Linked DNA regions of Homo sapiens: region 1 is linked to region 2. The links come from fine-mapping of genetic effects on gene expression. Tissue or cell type: whole blood. Region 2 holds a variant in brackets; the other region holds the start of a gene. All regions are shown on one strand. Distances are from middle to middle.

Region 1 (8,076 bases), 52 kb after region 2:
GGTTTCTACAAGCCACCTGCGTGGACTTTGGGGGTTGTTGAACACATGCCCTGATAACCATGAATTGGAGACCTGGATCTAAACATGGGCTAGCTACCCATCCTGGCATCTTTGGCTAATACCCTTAGCTTGGGTGCCCCTATCTGAGAATGATACTTTGGGCTGTTCAAGATCCTGTCTGAGGAGCCTCACATGGGTTTCCTAGTTAAGTTGTAAAGTCACTCTGCCAGAGAAGGTTATCACCGCAAAAGGCAGGACCTGGTGGGCTGGGCTCTCCATACACTTCCAGCTCTGACTGCCTGGTATAAATGTTCCTCTTGAGATGGATGTGTGTTGAGGTGGATAGTGAGAGCACTGGGCGGTGGCTAGGGATAGGGCAGGCAGGATTTGCTCTTGGTCACACTGGAGGGATGCCCAGACCACACCCGGGCACTAGAGCAGTTCTGGGATACAGTGTCTGAATCCTCAGTGGTCACTGCTCTCTTGGCCCTGACTGTGCAAGGGAATCACGAACACAGAGACGTCATCGTAGGACACCTGCCCTTCCTCTGTGAGACTGTCTTCCTTTCCCTGTGTGCTGTGTATCAGCATCTGGGCCAGCTTTGAGAACCTGTGAAGACCATCCTGCAGATAGACTTCAGGGGCAGAGCAAAGGGGCAAGGCCAGACCTTAGGAGAACTCACTGCACAAGGCTGGACATGGGGACCCAAGCAATGCAGTCCGACTGTGGACCAAGCAAGCAGCAAGTCTGGGAGGGCCACGGGCTGGACCATGAGAGTCTAAATCCAGGGATTTTCGGAACCCACGGTCTCCCTGCCTCCTCCAAGAAGCTTGAGACAGCCCTGATCCTGGCCAGCTGCCAGCTCATTGTCAGTGCTCTGTCTTCTCAGCCATAACTACTTGGGCTTGCTGCTGGCACCAACCCAGGCCCAGGCAGGTCCCCAGCAGCTACAGTACCTGTGTGGGTCCTCTTGGTTCCCAGGGAGGAAGCTCCGCACCAGCCATGCCACCTGCTCGTTGGACAGTACATCCCAGAGTCCATCAGTTGCCATGACAACCACATCATCCTCCTGTAGCTCCAGCTGGTCCACATCCAGCACAGTCACCTACAAATTAAGCCTGAGGATCCTGCACACTCCCTTCCCGACTCCCACCAGCCTCACTGTCTGCCTTTCTGGGCAGATGGAAGCTGGGTTGGACAGCGTTGCCCCCTTACCTGTGGCACAGAGAGCAAGAAGGGCTTGAGCTGGATGTTTGTGTCCAGGACTCTGAGCTGATGGTCTCCCAGGCCCCGGGAGACAGCCAGTGTTCCTAGTAACCGAGCCTGAGGGAAAGTGAGGTGTGAGGCGATGGCAAACAGCTCCAGCAAATGCACAAGTACCAGGCCCTAGCACTGCAGAGCACACAGGGAGAGGTGGACTGTGGCCCTTGGAAGCCTTGGACTGAGAGAGAAAATTCCTAGTCTCAGAGCAAATCCCAGGCCACCAGCCACAGCTACCAGCAAGAGGCAAAGGAGCTCCCACCTCTGCAGGGGACAATGAAGAGGGATTCTTGGGGTTGAGGAGGACCAGGCACTGACCTGCCTACCCTGTCCATGGATCAGTGGGTACTTGAGATCCGATTTCTCCACACGTTTGTAGCTCCTACCAGGAGCAGAGCCAGCATCAACCCAAGCCCTGTGCCCCATCTCATCTTTCCCCAACTCAGGGCCCAGCTGTCACACCCTCACAGTGCCACCCTGCCAAGGTGGAGGGGGGCCCCAGGCCATACGGCTGGGCCTGGATCCCAGGGGTCTCCCTTCCTACCTGTCCCCCATCCCCACTCACCAGCCACTCATGTGGTGATCCCTGAACAAAACCTTCTGTCCCAAGTCATCCCCCTTCAGCCGCCGAGGGAACTCCAGTCGGGTGAACTCACCAGCCAGAAGCTCAGGATAGACAAAGGCCTGGGGTGGGGAGGCTGCGCTCAGGTCATACTCCTTCTTATGGCCCTGGACCCAGGAGTTGGAGCTTCACAGCCTCCATGCTGCCAAGGGCACCTACCAGCTGCTGGATCCGCTGCCGCTCAGTCTCTGGGGTGAACTCGAAGCTCAGTGGCCGTATCTCATCTCTCCGCACCAAGATGGCCCTGGATTGAGGAGAGAAGGGAGAGGTCTAGGAGGAGGCCTCCACCCTCACCCATGGCCACCCTCCTACCAGTCCCTCCTCCAACCACCAGGATCCAGCTCTGTCCATGATGATCCCTTAAAGCCCTCCATGACTACCTAAGACCTGCAAGGGTGAAGGCTTAGCCCTTTAGCGGGGCCTTTGAGGTCCCTGCCCTCCCCGGCAGCCACTGTCCACACTCGACACATAACAAGTACACACACAATTCAGCCAGTCAATCCTTCCTACTATCCCTCCACTTCCAGCCACCTTTGCTTGTCCCCATTGCTGCTTATGCCCTCCCCATCCCACCCTTGCCCACCCTCCAAGGGGTGACTCACCTGCTATCCCCAGCATTGGCCATGTACAGCTTTCCCTGCAGGGACACAGCCACCAGGGCTGTGCAGCCGCCCATCTGGCCTGAGGCCTCCAGCTCCCGCCCGATCACCTCATCCTGGGGAAAACCGAGGCCACCTTAGCTGCTGCCTGTTCTGCCACCATACTACTTTGTCTCTCAATCCCCACCCTACCCTACAGTTCACTTCTACCAGCAGGCCTGACAGTCCCAGCCCAAAGTCCAGCCATACCTCCAAGATCCCTGCAGTCAGGAGATCTAGACAAGGGAAGTGCTACTCAAAATAGGAAGAGAAACCAGCCCCTGCACCAAGGACCAATAGGGTATTCAATTAGATGATGCAGGTAAAAGCAGTTAGCACACAGTAGGTGCTGGATAAATGAGAGGGGTTATGCTGATAGTGATGGCTGTTAGTAACAATCCAACCAACCCAATCTCATCCTCCCAATCCAAGGATCTGGTGTGATGACCATGGGTATACAGAGATGCCATTTCCTGAGATCCCCGGGGCAAAATCTCCACTTCTTCCCCAGCCAAAAGCCACACACTCACACATTCCTGAAAGGCACTCTCCAATGCCCCGATCACCAAGTCTTCTGCCCTGATGCCCTTTTCCTCCACAAACTGAGGGTCACTGGGGCAGATGCAGCGGCCATTGAGGTGCATGGGGGGCTGAGTGGCCACCAAGCCTTCCACCACGGCCTCCAGCTGCCGGCGCAAGCAGGAGTGCAGGGTGTTGGCAGCCAAGATGGCTGCTGCAGGACCGCCGTGCCCATCGAACAGTGCCCAGTAATGGCCTGTCAGGAACTGCACAGGAAGGGCTCAGTGTCAGCCTCTGCCTGACTTCCCCACTTGTCCCCTGACGCAACCTAACTAGGACCTGGGGCAGCAGGGTAAGAACCTCAGCCTGCAGGTCGTGGCCCCAGCCTGTCGGAGGGATTCCAGCCAAGAACTCAGACTGCACTCACCTCCTCTGGGCACAGGGTCAGCCACTCTTCTTCAGCCCCAAACTCACATCTCCGGATGCACAGCTTCCCACAGGCGGCTTGATCCTCATTGAATTCAGATTTCTCTGCATTGATAATCCTGAGGCCGGGAAATGGTAAGCGACCCTCCAGGGACACACCTATGTCCCCATGGGCACAGGGACCCAAGCCAGCACAGGGAGAAGACCCCTCCCTCTGGGGCAACAGCTCCCCAGTGCTGTCCCTAACACACACTTAGACAACCACGATGTAAGCTTCCTAACTTCACTGGCCTCATGGCTAAGGTAAAAGTCAGGGCCCAGCTCCTCTGGAGCCTACCTGGTGACCCAGGGCTAGACGGTAAGGGTAGGTTGCCATTCCTGCCCCTGTCCTGTCGCAGCCCAAAGCCCTGTCCCATACAGCGCAGGTCATACCCAGGGTGAGATGGTGGGGGTAGAGGGCGAGGGGAAATCTCCAAAGCCCCGAATGCTGGAACTCTACCGAGTCTCTGGGCCTCATCTTGGAAGCCCCTGGGCTGCAGGTCCTTCCCGACCTCCTGTCTTCTCTGAGGGGGAGGTCGGAATCCCAAGGAAAACGCTGGGTCGGGATGACCGGGAAGTTGTCAGGATTCGGAGGTGAGGGCAAGAAGGGGCTGTCCACAGGTGGGTGGGGACTGTCACTCAGCTCCTCCCGCTTTCTAGGCGGGCGCAGGACCCGAAGCGGGTTCAGGCCCGGGCCTGAGCTGGGGGTCGGGGAGGGGCACTCACTCGGCGTAGCCTGCATTCCAGGGTAGCGTGCGTCCTCGTGCGGGGCTGCGCACGGGCCGGGAGTCTGGGCGGCGCGAGGCGTCGGCCGCCCCGGGGCTGGAGCTGGAGCCGCGAAGGAAGCGGGGCCGTCGGTAGGGCACGGGGCTGGCATGCGGCCCAGGCGGCCGCGGCGCGGGGAGCGGCTCCCCAGGCAGGAAGCGGCGCCGGAACCAGCCGGCGGACATGGCGCGGCGGCAGGGGGCTGCCCGCGGAGCGCGGGGCGCTAGGGCTGGGCCGCCCGCGGGAGGAAGAAGCGGGCCGCGGGCGGAGCCGAGGGAGGGGTGCGCCGGCGGGAGGCGGGGCCGGGGGCGCGCAGACGGGAGGCGTCGCCCCCCAGCCCCGACCTCCGCCCGGGAGTGCGTGCGCGGCTGGTTCGCTGACTCCAGGGGTCAACGCTCGCGACCGCCTGAAGAAGCCCACGCCGGCATCAGCCCCATTTGACAAGCAGGAAAACCGAGGCCTAGAGAGGCGAAGTCGCCTGCCCAGCGTCCCACAGTAGCCAGGGAGGACTGTTCACCCACGCTTGCGGGGCACTGGTGGTTGAGAGGAAAAGTCCCCCACACTCCGCGGGGCCAGCGTCGCGCAGATCCTCGGACCTCCTCCTGCTGGGTGGGGACCTGACGCAAGGGGAAGATGGGGACAAAATGAGCTGGGAGGTGTCAGACCCCCACATTGAGTAAATGCCACCGAGCACAGGTTCCTTCAGGCGGCCTCCAATCCTCTCCACCCCGGCCTGCCACCCTCCACCCCAGACGGGCTTAGTGGGCACCTTGGCTTTCCCCGTCCTGAGAGGCTGCTGCCACCCTCGAGGACAGTCTTCCAAATGGCTGTCCCTGCATTCAAGATGTCTTCGCGGAATAGACAGCAGGATCCTTACTGGACTGTGAGTGAGTGACGGACAAGAGAAATCTGTGTGAGTGTAAAGGGGAATCCGTGGTCCCCCAAAGGCTCCAGCTGGTCCGAGTTCAGACCTGGGACGGAGGGAAGTGAAAGACGAGGAACCATCTTGCGGTCTCTCAACCACTGGCTAGCTGTCACCAGGCGGTCAGCCGCAGTGTCCCCTTCACATCTGCGAGTTAACAAAGCACTTTGTCACCCATTTGTCACTCAAGTCCAACTCCCTGTGCAAAAGTGTTACTTTGGCCGGAGGCAGTGGCTCACGCCTGTAATCCCAGTGCTTTGGGAGGCCGAGGCGGGCGGATCACTTGAGGTCAGGAGTTCGAGACCAGCCTGGCCAACATGGTGAAACCCCGTCTGTACTAAAAATTAGCCAAGCGTGGTGGTGTGCGCCTGTAATCCCAGTTACTCAGAAGGCTGGGGCACAAGAATCGGTTGAACCCAGGAGGCAGAAGTTGCAGTGAGCCGAGATGGAGCCACTGCACTCCAGCCAGGGCAACAGAGCGAGACTCAGTCTCAAAAAAAAGAGTGTTACATCATATGGACGATTCTGAGGCCCATGGAGGGGAAGTCTTGGACACCCAGGGCTGTACTATTTCCATTATGACAATGCAGCTGACTCAATCCTCGCCCCCAGGGCACTTCTCTTCCCCTTTCCTCCTCCAGGAAGCCAGGGCTTGCCAATTAAAAGCGGCTAAGGCTCCACAGCCCAGTGCCTGCATATGAGCTGTATGAGGAGTCCACCTTCACCTCCACTCCCTAGCCCAGGTAGACGCTCAGTAAGCCCTACTTCCTCCCAGCAGCTAGTCCTGCCCCAGTGGGAGTTCCTCGGGCCCAAGAAGGAAGGTTCTTAGGGCAGGGACCTGTGCCCAACACCCACTCCCTCCGATGACTCAGTCCCAGACCAGCCTGGGGGCTGATTGACTGAACCCACAGTGTCTGCTGGGGCCACACTGGGCACAGGAACGCAGTGCTAATGGAGACAAGCCAGGCCTCTGCCCACCAAGCCCCCTGCAGTGATGGTAGCAGTTCTGGTGGATGCTGCTTCATCCAGCTGGCAAGAGGATAGGGGCGATGTCAGAGAAAGTTTCCCAAAGGACCTCTGAGCTGTGAATTGTCACTGTGACAGAACAGAAAGGTACCAGGGTGGGGCAGGCCCAATTCAGTCTATGGGGCCACTTCCTCACCCTCACCAGTTGATGCCTCAGAGGATTTTAAAGTCTAAAATTGGACAAAACAAAGTGCATACACTCTATTCCCCAACCCACCCCTGGGTGGGGGAAAGCCTTGTCCTGAAGTATTTTCACAGAAGCTCTGGGCAACCAAATGTCATAGGCAGTCTGTTGCACAGCTTAGCCATTGTCTATTTTCAGAGCCATGTGGAACCACATGGCAATCCCATCCTCTCTGTTCCAAGGTGGCCTGAGTGTTCCTTCAGTGCTACCAGGCTCTTCTGGCTTCCTGGGCTCCTAAGCGCCTCACTCTTGCCTGGATCTTAAGCCTATGTCTCTTGGTTTACTCCCTCATTTTGCTGAAGTGCATCCTTCAACAACTTTCCAACAAAGGGTGACTGGGAGGTACTTTCCTGAGAGATGTTATTTATCTATCTTTTTCTGTGAATGGTCTGTTTGTATCCTTTGCCACACTTTCTACTGGGCCATTTGTCTTTTTCTTTTTCTTTTTTTTTTTTTTGATACAGAGTTTCGCTCTTGTTGCCCAGGCTGGAGTGCAATGGTGTGATCTCGGCTCCCCATGACCTCTGCCTCCTGGGCTTAAGTGATTCTCCTGCCTCAGCCTCCTGAGTAGCTGAGATTACAGGCATGTGCCACCACGCCTGGCTACCATTGGTCTTTTTCTTATTGACTTATGAGAGCTCTTTATATATTAGAGAAATCAGCTCTTTATTTTGAAATGAGTTACAAGTATGCTGTTTGTAACAAGTTACAGTTTGTTATTTGTGTTTTGGCTGTGATGGTGGCTTTTTCCATATAGACTTTATTTTTTATGCAAATGGATTATTGATCTTTTCATAAAGGAAAATAAAAATTTCAGGACCCCCAAATTTGTTATGCTAAAGGGAGAGTTAAGCTTGGAGACTGAGCCACACAACACTGGCATTCCTTTTTTTTTTTTTTTTTTTTTTTTTTTTTTTGAGATGGAGTCTTGCTCTGTCACCCAGGCTAGAGTGCACTGGCACAATCCCGGCTCACTGCAACCTCCGCCTCCCGAGTTCAAGCAATTCTCCTGCCTCAGCCTCCCCAGTAGCTGGGATTACAGGCACCCGCCACCATGCCCAGCTAATTTTTGTATTTTTAGTAGAGATGGGGTTTCGCCATATTGATCAGGCTGGTCTCGAACTCCAGACCTCAGGTGATCCACCCGCCTCGGCCTCCCAAAGTGCTGGGATTACAGGCGTGCTGGGATTACAGGCGTGCTAGGATTACAGGCGTGCTGGGATTACAGGCGTGCTAGGATTACAGGCATGAGCCACCACACCCAGCCTTTTTTTTTTTTTTTTAATTTTATTCCGGCAACACTTCATTCTATGCTGCAGAACTAATGTTCTCCAAAACTGTCATTCTTTTCCCAAATGGATACCTGTTACCTTGCAACCTTGTGTCAAAATATTATGCATTAACCAGATCCCCACAAAAAGGCAAAAAGCCTCATGAATCTCCAGGTGACTGCAATCACAAATTGCTCAGCAGTAAATTCTTTGCCAGTCCCTAAAACTTTCAGGATGTATATCCTCCTATAAAACAAGGACATGTCAACTGCAACTTTAGGTCTGCAACCTAAACCTAACTCCTAAAACCAAAGTCTGTTAAATTTCACACTGACAATGTCAATTACAAGTTTATCTGCCCAGGTGCAGAACAAGGATAAGATGAGATCAATCATTCCTCCAC
Region 2 (8,076 bases):
TGTGATTTCTAAATAATACCAAACTTTTTTTTTTTTTTTTTTTTTTTGAGACAGTCTTACTCTGTTGCCCAGGCTGGAGTGCAGTGGCACAATCGTGGCTCACTGCAGCCTCACTCTCCTGGGCTCTGGTGATCCTCCCACCTCAGCCTCCCGAGTAGCTGGGACTACAGGTGCACATGATCACACCCGCCTAATTTTTGTATTTTTTGTAGAGACAGGGGTCTCACCATGTTCCCCAGGCTGGTCCCAAACTCCTAACCTCAAGCAATCCACTGGCCTCAGCCTCCAAAAGTGCTAGGATTACAGGCATGAGCCACCAAGTCTGGCCTAAATACCAAAATTCTTTTTTTTTTTTTTTGAGACAGAGTCTTGCCTTGTCACCCAGGCTGGAGTGCAGTGGCATGATCTCGGCTCACTGCAAGCTTTGCCTCCCGAGTTCACGCCATTCTCCTGCCTCAGCCTCCCAAGTAGCTGGGACTACAGACGCACGCCATCACACTCAGCTTTTTTTTTTTTTGTATTTTTAGTAGAGACAGGGTTTCTCCATGTTAACCAGGATGGTCTCAATCTCCTGACCTCGTGATCCGCCTGCCTCGGCCTCCCAAAGTGCTGGGATTACAGGCGTGAGCCACTGCGCCCGGCCAATACCAAAATTCTTAACCATGACCTTTGGGTGGGAGTTGGGAGGAATGAGAACAGCCATCTGAAGGAGGGTCTCCGGATGGGACTCCAACCTACTTGGGGGTACTGGGGGTGCAGAAAGAACGCAGCCCTGTGTCAGGGACCGGTATGGAAGCCTCAGTAGGGCTGGAGCCCCATCATGCCCCTTCCGAGCAGATCAGCACAGACCAGCTGGTCAGGTGGACTCCATCCCTGCCCTGTCCTCACGGAGCTGTAGGGAGAGTCCCAAAGGCAGGTGGTGGGGCTGGGGCCTCCAACAGCTGGGTCCTCTCATATCACTTAGGGCCCAACAGCACACAGTCTCCCAAGTGTGCCAGGTGCCACAGCACGGCCATCCCGCTCTCCCAGCTCCACCCCGCCTGCCTGCCTGCCACCATCTCCACAAACATATGCTGCAGCTCCACACCCGGGAAACACCACATGCTCGCTTTGGTGGGCAATGGCTCCCTCCCCGCTTGCTCACTTGCTTCCCAGGACCCCAGGCCCAGCACAGCCCCCTACCCCACCTCAAGCCCTGGGCTGGCCCAATTCCTAAGGTGGCCTTGGTCAGTCCCCAGATCTCAAGCTCCCAGTAGGTGACATCTGCTCATTCCTTGCCTGTCCCAGGCCTTCATTCATTCCACATAATGTGGTCTGGGATCCCGTGGGCTGGCTCCAGAGACAGAGACAGATAGGAAGCAATCCTTTCAAATGTCTGCAACTTACTCAAATGAGTAAGAAAGAAAATATGTATGTCTATACACACACACACACACACACACACACACACACACACACACACACAGAGCAAACGGAGCACAATATTCACAGTAGTTGAACATATCCCCAAAAGAGCACGTGTGTCTTTTGTACTATCACTATTCTGGCAACTTTTCTGTAAGTTTGAAATCATTTATAAATAAAAAATAAAGAAGAATAAGGAAAGAAAGAAGGAAGGAAGGTCCTTTCCCTTCTCCGAGCTCTAGGCTATAAGAAGAGACAGCTGGACAAGTGGCAGCCAAGTCACTGTACCCCTGCTGGGTGGGGCCAGGAGGGATTCCCTGAGGTGGTGATAACGGCTTGGGGAGGCAGGGTCTAAGGGGCACACACCTCTGACCCTTGTATGGAGGGTGGCACTCAGGGGCTGACTCTCTGGGAGTCTCCCTGTCACAGCTTTAGGCAAGCCCTCGCTCCCTCCCCTTCTCCTACTCTCCAAATAACGTGCTCTGGGAGTCTGAGATAAGAAAGGGAACTTCCCTTGGTCACAAGGTGTGGGAGGGTGGCTGGAACTTCTGTGCCTTTGAGTGTAAGAGGAGGCTGAACTGGCCCGGGGGCTGTGCCTGGTGGGGTGAGAGGGTTGGGACGGCCCTGCTCAAGGCCATCCTGTCCTCCCTCCCAGTGAACGAACGCTCACACAGACTCACCGAGCTGACTTCCCCAGGCAGTGCCCTTGCCTGTCACAGCAGCACTTGGCAGCAGGAGGGCAGCAGCAGGGAAGTGGCTCATTATTTCATCCTTCATTAGCTCGGCATTAGGCAGCCTGAGAATTGTGGGGTGTGGAGTGGGAGCCTCTGGTTCGGCGGTCTTGCAGCTCCGTGCCCACCCCTTGCAGCCTCCTTCCCCCCACCCGCTCTCTCTCCCCTGCTTCCCTACCTCTTTGATCCCCACTTCTCTCCTCCCTCCCTGTGCTCCCTACCCTGCCCTCCTCCCTGGGATGGAGGCAGGGCACACACTCTCCCTAAGAGGGGGCTTCCCCTACCCAGTTCTCAGTCACAGGATAGGCCCCATCAACCATCCCCTTCCCGAAAAGACAGTGACACCAGCATCCTCATGTGTGGTCAATCATGGTGTGTGTCCCGGTTGTTCTGAGCCCTCAAAGAATGACTGGGACCCCTGCCTGGCCTCACAGCCCATGTCCTCTCCTCTCCACCTCAGGCCGCCACTTCAGAGCCTGGACCGCCCCAGAGTGTATCTGCCCCCCACCCCCACTCCAGGAAGCTCTGGCTGGGATGCTCAGGGCTGGGGCACCCAGGGGTCAGCAGAAGCCGATTCCTCCATTCAGATGCCGTTGTTTCTTTTCACGTCTTTGTTGCCTTGCCACTGGCCGCAGTCCTCCCAGCCAGCCCACCAGCCCAGCCCCTTACCCAACGGCTGGCAGGTTCCCCTCCCTGCCAGTCCCCTTCATGCATGGCCTTCTGCCATTCAAGTCCTACTGGTCTCCCCTGAGTCCAGAGCCTGGCATGGGACGGGGTGGGGCCCCTCTGCCCAGCTCAGCCATCAGCCACCAGCCCCCTGCAACCTGCCTTTCACCCTGCTCCTCTCCTGCCCACGCCCCTCACTTGCCCTCTACCTCCTCACCCTGTCCCTGCTCTCCCGCCCCTCTAACAGTCTCCCCACTCTCAGTCTGGCCCCTCACCTCCCCTGCCCCCTCCCCATTTCCTCTCCCCTCCTCTACTGGCCCTTTAGTCCCTGGGTGTCAGGCTTTATCTCTCGGTGGGCGGCAGGCTCGTTGTTCTCCCCTCCCCTCTCCTCTTCTCTCTCATCCTCTCCCTTCTCTTCCCCCTCCAGCCTCCACTCCTTCGCCCGCTCACTCACCCTCTCCCTCTCCCGCTGCCCCCCCTTTCTCCCCCACCTCTTTGTTTCAGCTGAGAACCAGCTCCTCGGGACAGTTCCCACACTGCAGTGCCTCTGGTGAGGAGACAGCGCCACTGAGGTGAGCCTTGGGGATCTGGGGACACAGGCATGGGGTGGCCGGAGCCCTGGGGGGCAGGCAGATGGGGAGAATGCTTCTCTGCCCCAGGCAGTGGGGAGCAGCAGTGGACTGCCAGCTTCAGGTCCCCCGGGGGTCAGCAGGAGTGGGAGGCAGAGGGGTGGCCAGTTAGCCGAGAGGGACAAGGCTGGCCGGGAGCTGGCAGGCTCCGTTCCTGCCTGGGTGCCTGGCTTCTGTGGGTGGCCCTGGGCTGAGAGAGACCCTCAGGGGGACCTGAGAGGGTGGGCGGGGGCTGGGCTGCCTGGAACAGTGTATGCCCAGTCCTGGAGTCCAGGGCTCTGACCCTGACTCTGACTGGGCTGCTGCTATGGGGTTGCTGGGTGCCAGCAGCGGCACCGTCCAGGGGACTGTGACCCTCACAAGTGCCTGTGCTAGCAGGGGGGTTGGCGGCTGGCTGGAATG[T/A]GCTGGGGCTACTCCCACTGCCCAGGTGGAGAGTCTGAGTGGAGGGAGAGATCTTCCCCCTGCCATAGGCTCACAGGTTTTACTCCAAGCTACTGATCCCCAGACCCATAGACCCACATGGTAAAGACAGGCACTTCTCCCTCCCCTAGGGGTCTTTGACCAGCTCCCTCCAGACAGCATCCCTAGAAGAGCTTTGCCCAGAGTTGCAAACAGCAGGGTTTCAACCCAGAGCCTAGATATTCCTGCAGTCAGCTTCCTGGAACTGGGCTGGACAGGGAGGAACGGGGGCTCTGTGGATAGGGGTGGGGAAAGCAGGTGGAGACAGAGGCCTGGCTCCAATGAGGCTACAAGTGTGATTTTTGGAGACAACCAAGGGCCACAAGGAGATCTTGAGACTCTAAAGCTGTGCAGGTGGGTGGGAATGATCTGAAGGGGCAGAAGCCAAGTGCCAAGGGCCCCACCCCCTTCTCGGCTGGTAGCGGGGATGGAGAGGCAGGGCTGGAGAAATGTATGGCTCACACCTTTCCAGGGAGGTGGGCAGGGCGGCTCTGCTGGCTGCTAGTGGAGGAAAAGAAAAGGCCAGCCCAGACGTGAAGGGACACCAGGGAAGACCTTCTCAATGGGATGCATTTTGGGGGTCTAGCCTCTGGCTCTCTGGTTGGGGCACAGCCAAGTCCTACAGCTCCCTGGCTCCCCAAGGAGGCAGTGGTGGGCCAAATCCTGGTGAGTAGTGGTCCCATGAGGCGGAGCTGCTAAGGGCAGTGGCCTCATAGGACTGGGCAGATGGGGCACTTGTTCCAGGGGCCAACTGTTTTGCCCTCTTCCCTTGGCTAGAACTTCCTCATCTGAGCAAGGCGACAGCTGCACCTGCTCCCACCCCTGCCCCCTAGAAACCCCCGGATGGAAGCAGCATGTCTAGAGAGGTGGAATCAGAGCTGTGGGCACGAGCTGGTGCCAGGCTGAGTGTCCACCCCCAGCCCACCCTCCTCCAGCCACTACAAACCAGCTGAGTCAGGGGAAGTGGAGAGCAAAGCCTCAGAACTGGCCCTAGCGGTTACTGGGGAGATGTCTGGCCCACAGCCTTGGGGAGAAAGCCCATCTCTCCTGGGCTGGGCACAGCTCACGACAGCCCCATGGTCCTATAGCTGATGTGGCAGCCTGCCTAGGTCATTGGCTTCCCTATCATCCAGGGTGTGTGTGTCCCCCACCCCTGCATACCCCCTCCCTTCCCCTAGCATATCCCAAATCCTCTTACCTAGCTACGGATTCTGGCCTGGGGTTAAGCCAGTCCTCCCTCACCTCAGTCTGGGCCTCATCATGCCCCTCGCACATGACCCAGACCCAGAGGGAGGCAGGTTGCCCTACCCATTTTCCAGAGACATTAGGGGGCTCTCTTCCAGGCGGCTCAGCTCACTCTGACTCCAGGCGATCATCCATCAGCTCCGTGATCTCCCAGGGCACTGTACACCCTACTGGCCATTAAAGACTCAGATACCATTCCCTGCTGGTGCCTGCCTAGTGCCAGAGGCCAGCAGGTTGCTCACTCAGCCTCAGTCAGTGAGCGCCAAGGTCCCGCTGGCTCTAACTCTGGTCCTACCATGGGAGAAGAGGGCCTCCCTGAGCCAAGAGCTCCCTGAGATTCCCCTTGGAAGAGGCCAACACCTCTACCTTCTTTCTCTCCCTCCCTGAGCTCCCCACTTCCACAGAGCTTTCCCGCACAGATCCACCTGCCGCTGATACCTTCCTAAAGAGATGATAGGGCAAGGATGTTTTCCCCATTAAACAGATGAGAAAACAGGCCTGGAGAAAGGAAGGTGGGAAGGCCAGGACTCGGACTTACCACCTGACTCCTACTCCAGTGCTCCTTCCAAGCCACTTAAATGCCACCCTCGTGAGATCCTACATGAGTGGGGTCCCTATGCCCACCAAACTGTCCACTAGCTGCCCAGCCTCTGCCCCCACAAATCCTCAACACCCTGAGGCATTCCCAGAGACAGATGGGCTCAGTTACTCCCAACAGTGTTTGAGCCAGGGCTTTCGGCCTTGGTTCCAAAGCAGGCATCTAAAGGGTTCCCTGGGCTGGCTAAAGGCTTTGGAGCTGAGGCTGCATAGGGGAGGTGGGAGAGGGTCTCAGAGCCTGGTAATGCACCTCTCCTATCTGCAACCCCTTCCATCTCCTTGCATGCCCCCAACCCCCGCCCTCTGCTGTAAGGAAGCTGGCTCTCAGCATTAAAGTCCCAAAACAGCTTCATGACATTATTCCCTGCCAAAATCTTCATGAGGTTTGCCACTGATGTCAATGTGAAGTCAACTCCCTCGGCCAGGCACACTAGCCTCTGCCAGTCTTCTGGGCCTTCTTGCCCAACTTGCTCATTGTATCCCCTACACTCTAACTACACCTGTGTGTCTCCACCCTGGGATGGGGCACAGCAGAGCTCAGAGACTGGCTGTGGGCTGCACTACACATACACATGCTTATACATATATTCATGCACACGCACACATGCACACACACACAGATGTGCATACAGATGCAGACACACATTTATGTAGAAGCCCACCACTCAACTGCGCATGGTTTTCTGCCAAATCACACACACAATGGAGCTGTCCCTCTGAGACAAGAAGGTTCCAACACATCTGCTGTGTGGATCCCTGGAGAGGCCAAGCATGGTTGTGTCGCCATCCCAAGCCCTTGAGGGGCAGTGGGGAAGCAGAAGTAGATCCCCTGGATCTGGCTGAGCCCTTGCTTGGCCCCAGGGTATCTGAGCCCCAGAGAGTGGCAGAGGATAGTCAAGCAGGTTCCAACTAGGTTCTTACCCTGGTTCTGTGGCCCTTATGTGGGACTGTACAGTCCCCAGTAAGCCACCTTCTCTCTCTGAATCTCCAACTATAAATCAAACGCTTGGGACTAGCTGACACTGAAGGGCTGCCCAGGCCCACTGCCCCACTGCTCTTGGCTCATGCCAAGTGCAGAGAATGGAGAGGCCTGTGAGGGTTGCTATAGCCAGCAGGGCCAGACACCCTCCATGGTGAAATCCTCCAGCTGGGCCAGGGGAAGCTTCAGAAAATGACGATGAGGTGGGCACGAGGGCAGCAGCAGCCGGAAGAAACAGAAGCCAAGAGCAAGGGACGGGCACTTCAATGATCCAAAATTGACATTTATGGAGCAAGTAATGAATCCTATCAAAACATTCACTGTGCAGGGTTTTCTCATCTCAGCATTTAGACTGTGGCCAAATACATCCTTTCTTATCTCTGGGGTATCCAGTGAGCAAATCTAACGGGTTAGGCTCACAGACCATTTGGCCCTATGGGGTCCAATCCGGGCCCTGGCCTCCCAGCCCCTACAAACAGAAGTATAGGGAAGGGGTCAATGTAGAGCAGGGGGAACCTCCTGCAAGATCCTATCCATACCCAAAGCCCTCAGCAGGGATGCAGGGAGTCATGTGCCCTGTACTAAGTATCTATGTGTACACTCAGAGATGCATTCCCACTCTGAGTACGCCAACACCAACGTCTGTATACTCACACACCTACCACCCACACACACACTGGGGACATGGCTGCCAGGCCCTCAGCTCCTGCAGCCCCTGCCCCAGCTCTCCTATCCTGCTTTTGCCTGGAACTTGGAACCCAGTGCCAATACTCATGCTCCCAAGAGCAAGGACTGAGGCAGGAACAGGCTACATGTAGACGCTGCCAGAGGAGCACCACGGCACAGGATCATGCGAGGATCACCATAACCCCAGAGACTGTGACCCTAGTCAGCAGGAACTCCATGCCAGCACAGAAGGAAAGGAAGCGGTGCCTGCGCATCCCAGTGGGGTGCAAGCTCCCCTTTTCCTAAACCTCCCTGGTCCCCAGAGCCCGCTTACCACGTTTACCTCCCTCCCAATCTCCAGCCTGCCCTGTGTGAGCCAGGCCCCCAGGTCATGAACTGTCTGCAAGCTAGGCTGCCCAGAGCCCAGGTGGGGAAGGGAAACCCTTCCCAGGGGAAAGTCCTGCCAGCCCTGGCCCAGGGCCCCTCCACACCCTCAGGGAGGAGGGGAGGGTTGGGGTGGAAGAAGTGCCTGCAAGAGCAGCCCCAGGCCTCGCTGTTCTCTATGGCTTTTTATTCCTATGTGATTCTACTGCTCACTCATATAGGGATTGGAGCCGTGGCGCACGGCGGGGACAGCCAGCGGAGGGTTCTGACACTGAGCAAGGGGGCTCAAAAGGAGGCAGGACAGTGGCACCTCCCT

The links. PIP is the estimated chance that this variant, and not a neighbour inherited with it, causes the effect.
Region 1: PPM1M starts here. The variant in region 2 is fine-mapped to the expression of PPM1M in whole blood (TOPMed, PIP above 0.99).

What each region holds. Positions count from the first base shown.
Region 1 is chr3:52,242,204-52,250,279 of GRCh38, reverse strand. PPM1M (protein phosphatase, Mg2+/Mn2+ dependent 1M) reads right to left here and starts at 4,521. Exons shown (of 10, transcript NM_144641.4): 1 at 4,232-4,521; 2 at 3,468-3,585; 3 at 3,052-3,306; 4 at 2,486-2,598; 5 at 2,043-2,127; 6 at 1,827-1,945; 7 at 1,580-1,643; 8 at 1,217-1,324; 9 at 958-1,106; 10 at 1-610. The coding sequence starts at 4,455. The coding sequence ends at 466. RefSeq lists silencers at 4,178-4,237, 4,278-4,647.
Region 2 is chr3:52,294,154-52,302,229 of GRCh38, reverse strand. GLYCTK (glycerate kinase) reads right to left here. Exons shown (of 5, transcript NM_145262.4): 5 at 6,973-8,076. It overlaps MIR135A1 (microRNA 135a-1), which reads left to right and starts at 7,922; the gene lies at 7,922-8,011. RefSeq lists enhancers at 1,539-2,408, 2,409-3,279. The variant T/A (reference allele first, on the strand shown) is at 3,833.